Linked DNA regions of Homo sapiens: region 1 is linked to region 2. Evidence: fine-mapped expression QTL. A gene starts in region 2. The other region holds a variant in brackets. All regions are shown on one strand. Distances are between the middles of the regions.

The links. PIP is the estimated chance that this variant, and not a neighbour inherited with it, causes the effect. A credible set is the group of variants that fine-mapping cannot tell apart.
Region 1: its variant is the best candidate, but not a certain one, in a credible set for the expression of MEX3D in whole blood (INTERVAL, PIP 0.70).

The regions. Positions count from the first base shown.
Region 1 is chr19:1,514,313-1,517,207 of GRCh38, reverse strand. No RefSeq gene overlaps it. Among named protein-coding and RNA genes, the nearest start is that of ADAMTSL5, 2.7 kb to the right of the region's middle. The variant C/G (reference allele first, on the strand shown) is at 1,467.
Region 2 is chr19:1,566,779-1,569,673 of GRCh38, reverse strand. It overlaps MEX3D (mex-3 RNA binding family member D), which reads left to right and starts at 1,349. Exons shown (of 2, transcript NM_203304.4): 1 at 1,349-2,210. The coding sequence starts at 1,616. RefSeq lists silencers at 1,070-1,119, 1,160-1,349.

The DNA.
Region 1 (2,895 bases), 52 kb after region 2:
TGAGTTCAGGAGTTCGAGACCAGCCTGGGCAACAGGGGGAGACCCCCAACTCTACAAAAAATATAAAAATTAGCCAGGCATGGTGATGCATGTCTGTAGTCCCAGCTACTTGGAAGGCTGAGGTAGGAGCATCTCTTGAGCCCAGGAGTTTGAGACCAGCCTGGGTCGGGACAACATAGCAAGATCCTGTCACTACTAAAGATCAAAAAAATTAGCCAGATGTGATGGCATGCATCTGTAGTCCCAGCTACATGGGAGGCTGAGGTGGGAGGATCGCTTGAGCCCAGGAGGTCAAGGCTGCAGTGAGCTGTGATTGCACCACTGCACCCCAGCCTGAGCGACAGAGCAAGACCCTGTCTCAAAAAAAAGTAAAAAAAGAAAGAAAAGGACAGAAAGATAAAAAGAAAAAAAAGAAATCTGGCCCCTTCCATTTGCTGCCGTCTGTCAGCATCTGCTTGAGACAGTGCATCTCTTCGAGCAGTCAAGAAAGTCCAGCCTACCTCAACTCACGCCATCCCTGGAGCCCACCCCAGCCACGGGAAACCACCTTTTCCTCTAATGGCCCAGTTCAAGTCCCAGGGCAGGCTCTCATTGGCCCACTTGGGTCACATGGTCATCCCCCAGCCAATCCCCGTCTCTAGGAGATGGAATTATCTGTTTGGCCAAGCATGGGTTACGTCATACACAATGGAGGAGGTGGGCCAGTCCACCTGATCCACGTCGCCTGAAAGTGACAGAACAGGTGGTTTTCAGCACGTGAAGGTGGAGGGGAAGGGGCACCCTGGGGAGGCCATGTCACAGGCCTGGAGCCTGGGCAGTGGGGTAAGAAAGCAAGAGGTCTCTTCCAGGAATTCTGGACGGTGCCCGGGGCACTGGGTGCCTGCAGGGAACAGATTCCGAGCGTGCACAAGAAACCGGCACAGAATGAGGACCGGGCGAGCAGCGGCCAAGGAGGGTCCAGGGCCCTGAGTCCCATGGGGTGACTCCAGCCGGGGAGGGTCCCAACTCTGCGTGGCCCCTGCTGGTGCCCAGGAACAGACGGACAGCCCCAGGGACCGGGGGGTCCAGGGGTCTGTGGGGCAGGGATGGGGAGGCCCCACCCAGTCCACGCAGGAGGTTGAGGTATCCTGGGACCACCGTGTCCTAGGTTTTGCATTTTTAGTAGAGACGGGGTTTCACCTTGCTGGTCAGGCTGCTCTCGAACTCCTGACCTCAGGTGATCCACTGGCCTTGGATCCCCAAAGTGCTGGGATTACAGGCGTGAGCCACCGTGCCCAGCCCAGTGTCTGCAATTTGATGAGTTTGCACATATGCAGTCACCACACTCAAGATGACAGGCCTACCTGTCACTTCCCGAGGTCCCTTGTGTCCCACTGTTTTTGTTCTTTTATGGTAAGAACCCTTACCATGAAATCTACCCTGTGAACACAGTTTGAAGTGTGGGGTACCATACTGTTCACTGTAGC[C/G]CAGTCACACAGCAGATCGCGGCATTCCTTAAGCCTCAAGGCCATACAACCATGAAGGAAATGGAACCTAATTGATCCACATCCGCCGGGACCCGCGTCTCAGTCTCCCCTCTAGCCCTGACGCTGCCTCAAGGAGGGGGTCCAGGCTGAAATTCAGAGTAGGGGGACTCGGCTGATTCCTGGGTCAGGGTCCAGGCAAGGGCAGGGGAATGTAGTAAGCTGGGACCCCGCCCAACTGGGACCCCAGGAGCCTCTGAGCCTCAGCAGCCACCCCCTCCACCTACACCGGGTGTCTTAGGCTGAGCTCCCAGCCTCCTCCTAGGGACATCCAGAGGACAGAGGTGGGAGACGGTAGGGGACAAGAACTGGGGGTGGGGGGCAGCCCTCCACATCTTCACCACCACCTCTGCCAATCTTGCCAGCTCTAGAGCCCCCACGCAGGGTGCAGTGGCTGCGGTATGCACTCCCAGGAGGGAACAGGGGCTGCGGGGTACACTTTCCATAGAACTCAGTGCCTACTGTATGCGCTCCCTGCAGGAGACAGCGCCTTATGTATACCTTCCTTGCAGGATGCAGCACCTGCTGTATACCTTCCTTGCAGGATGCAGCACCTGCTGTATATACTCTCTACAGGATGCAGTGACTGCTGTATGCACTCCTCTGAAGGTGCCATATCTACTGTATACACTCCTTTGCAGGGCAGAGTCTACTCTATGCATTTCTACAAGATGCAGCACCTGCTGTATACCCTTCCTGCAGAGCATAATGCCTGCTGTGTGTGCTCCCTGTGGGCGCTGTGCTTTCTGTATACCTTCCCTGCGGGGCACAGGGCCTGCTGTCTGCACTCCCAGTGGAGCTCTGTGGACTGGACATCTGGGAATGGGGCACATCTGAGGAGGATACAATTGTCCTAATGACACATTGACACATGTCCTGAGCTGACTTCTTTCTTTCTTTCTTTCCTTTTTTTTTTTTTTTTTTTTTTTTGAGACGGAGTCTCGCCTGTCTCCCAGGCTGGAGTGCAGTGGCGTGATCTCGGCTCACTGCCACCTCTGCCTCCCGGGTTTAAGCGATTCTCGTGCCTCAGTCTTCCGAGTAGCTGGGATTACAGGCACTCACCGCCATGCCTGGCTAAGTTTTATATTTTTAGTAGATACTGGGTTTCACCATGTTGTCCAAGCTGGCTTCAAACTCCTGACCTCAGGTGATCCGCCTGCCTCGGCCTCCCACAGTGCTGGGATTCCAGGCATGAGGCGCCGCGCCCGGCCTGCCCTTCTCTCTTGACCCCTTCAGTGAGGGCCTTCTTGACATCCCCGCAACCACCACCCCCCAACCTGGGGCCATCAGTGGTGGGCCTGGGCTATTTTCTCCAATAGTCCAGGTCAGAAGGTGGGGGGTCATACATTCCAGGGGGCTGCCTTACCCGCTG
Region 2 (2,895 bases):
CAGCCAGCCAGGGACAGGTCTGGTAGAAGAGGGGGGCAGGTAGACCCAGCCAGACAGGTTTATCACAAAAAACCCCACAGGTGCAAGGAAGGCCCCGAAGGACAGCTGGAGGAAGAGCCGCTGGGAAAGCGGCTATTTTTTTTTTTTTTTTTTTTTTTTGAGAGGAGTCTTGCTCTGTCAACCAGGCTGGAGTGCAGTGGTGCAATCTCGACTCACTGCAACCACCACCTCCAGGGTTCAAGCAATTATCCTGCCTCAGCTTCCTGAGTAGCTGGGATTACAGGTGCGCGCCACCACGCCTGGCTAATTTTTGTATTTTTAGTAGAGTCGGGGGTTTCACCATGTTGGCCAGGCTGGTCTCTAACTCCTGACCTCGTGATCCACCCGCCTCGGCCTCCCAAACTGCTGGGATGACAGGCATGAGCCACCGCGCCCGGCAAGGGTGGCTTTAGAGGTGGACAACGCCCGTTGCGGGGAAAGGCACCCCAGAAGAGGGTGGGGCTCCACATGGAGGGTTCTGGCTGGTGTGAGCCTGCCCTCGCCATGGAAGCACCACTGTGGTAGAGAGGTCTCTGGCTGGGGGCACAGAGACCGGGTCTGTGGCCTTGGGTGGGGCGGAGGAGGTGGCGTGGAGGAGGTGGCCTGATCCCAAAGCCGGGAGCCAGCCAGAGGGGAGCTAGGAGAGACTAGGGGAGAGGGACCTCAGGCCCTGGGGTGTGCATGATTGTGGAGCTGTCCCTGGCACAGAGGCTGGGGGTGGGGCAGGGGCCTGACCCTAAAGCCCACCTGATAGCAAGGGGTACTTGGGGACTGGGACCCCAGGCCCTGGGGGGTGCACCGTGGGGCGGGGGTTGGACCCTGGCACAGAGGCGGTGGGCGGGCAGGAGCCTGACTTCGAAGTCCAGTGGGATCGCGAGGGGGACTTGGAGAGGACCCCACGCCTTTATGCAGGGAGGTGGGGGTCCCTGGCACAAGGAAGCGGGCGTGGAGCAAGAGACCTCGCTTGGGGGCGACCCGGATCTCTAGGGGAAATTGGGGAGCGGGACCTCGGGCCCTGGGGCGCGCGAGGCAGGGACTCTCAGGCTTGGGGAGGGAGCGCTGTCCAGGCAGGGGCTGAGCCGCACACACCTGCAGCAGCGCCCGCACGTGCGGATGCGCCCGGGTTCCCGCCCGAGCGCCGGGCGGAGGCGGGGCCTGGACCACGTGCCCGGCGCCGGCCCCGCCCCGGCCCCGCCCCGCGCGCCTGCGCCCTGGGGGCCGCCCATTGTTGGGCCGCGGCGTGACGTCGCGGGGGCGGGGCCGGGGCGGGGCCGCGGGAGGCGGCGGGAGGGAAGGAGCGTCCCGCGCCGCCGCCGCCGCCTCGGCCGCCGAGGAGCCGCCGCCGCCGTCGCCGCCGCCGCCGAGCCGCAGCCAGAGTCGCTGCCGCCGCCCGGCCCGGCCCGGCCCGGCCCCGAGCAGCCCCGCGCCGCCGCCGCCCCGCCCGCCCGGCCCCCCGTGCCCGCCCCCGCCGCTGGATGCAGGCGGCCGGCGGCCCAGCTCGCAGAGGCGGAGGGCGGCGCGGGCGGCGGCGGCGGCGCGGGCGGCAGGAGCGCGGGCCCCAGCGCTAGCTCCCGCCATGCCCAGCTCGCTCGGCCAGCCCGACGGCGGCGGGGGCGGGGGCGGCGGCGGCGGCGGCGTGGGGGCGGCGGGGGAGGACCCCGGACCCGGACCTGCGCCCCCGCCCGAGGGCGCCCAGGAGGCCGCGCCCGCGCCCCGGCCGCCGCCCGAACCCGACGACGCGGCCGCCGCGCTCCGCCTGGCGCTGGACCAGCTGTCGGCGCTCGGGCTGGGGGGCGCTGGCGACACGGACGAGGAGGGGGCGGCCGGGGACGGCGCAGCGGCGGCGGGGGGCGCGGACGGCGGGGCGGCTCCGGAGCCTGTGCCCCCCGACGGACCTGAGGCCGGCGCGCCCCCGACCCTGGCCCCCGCCGTGGCCCCCGGGTCGCTGCCGCTGCTGGACCCCAACGCGAGTCCCCCGCCGCCGCCGCCGCCCCGGCCGTCGCCCCCCGACGTGTTCGCGGGCTTCGCGCCCCACCCCGCGGCCCTGGGGCCCCCGACGCTGCTGGCCGACCAGATGAGCGTGATCGGCAGCCGCAAGAAAAGCGTCAACATGACCGAGTGCGTCCCGGTGCCCAGCTCCGAGCACGTCGCCGAGATCGTGGGTCGCCAGGGTGAGTGGCCCTCGTCGGGGGTTGCTGTCCTGGGGGTCCCCGCACCGTCCGCCCCGGGGAAGGGGGTCGCCCGAGCCCAGCCCAGCCCGCGCCGGACGCCCCGCACCGGACACGCCCCGCGTGGGCTCCGGCCTCGGCCGCTGCCTTTGCGCCTTTGTCCTGCAGCCGCCGCGGGAGAAAGTTGGGCGCAGCCCGCGCTCCTCCCCTGCGCGCTCCGGCCCCGCCGCCGCCTTTGTCTGGGCCGCCTCCAGCCCGGAAAGGCTCCGGGGAGCCGCGCCGCAGCCCAGGCCCTCGGCCGCCCGCAGGGGCACCCCAGAGAGGGGCTCGAGGGCCCGGGGCTCCGGCCGGGCGGGGGGCGCCCCACACCCAGCACAGGCGGCGGGGCGGGGCAAGCGCAGGTTTAGGGGTGGCTTAGGGGGGCCGCCTGCAGGACCGGGAGAGAAGGCTGACAGTACAAAGAGCGCACGTCTCAGTCTCCAGCCTGGGGCCCTGACTGGGGTGGGGACGGGACCGGGCAGGAGAGGGTCCCTGCTCCACTCTCTGGCCCCGAGTCAGGGATTTCGGGGCCTGGGGAAGGACCGGCTGTCAAAGCCACTTCTGGGGTGCAGCCTGCTGGGCAGGCCGGCGGGCGGCAGGCCCCGGGTGTGGGGTCCAGCGGTGGCATCGTCGGAGCTTCCCTCTGGCC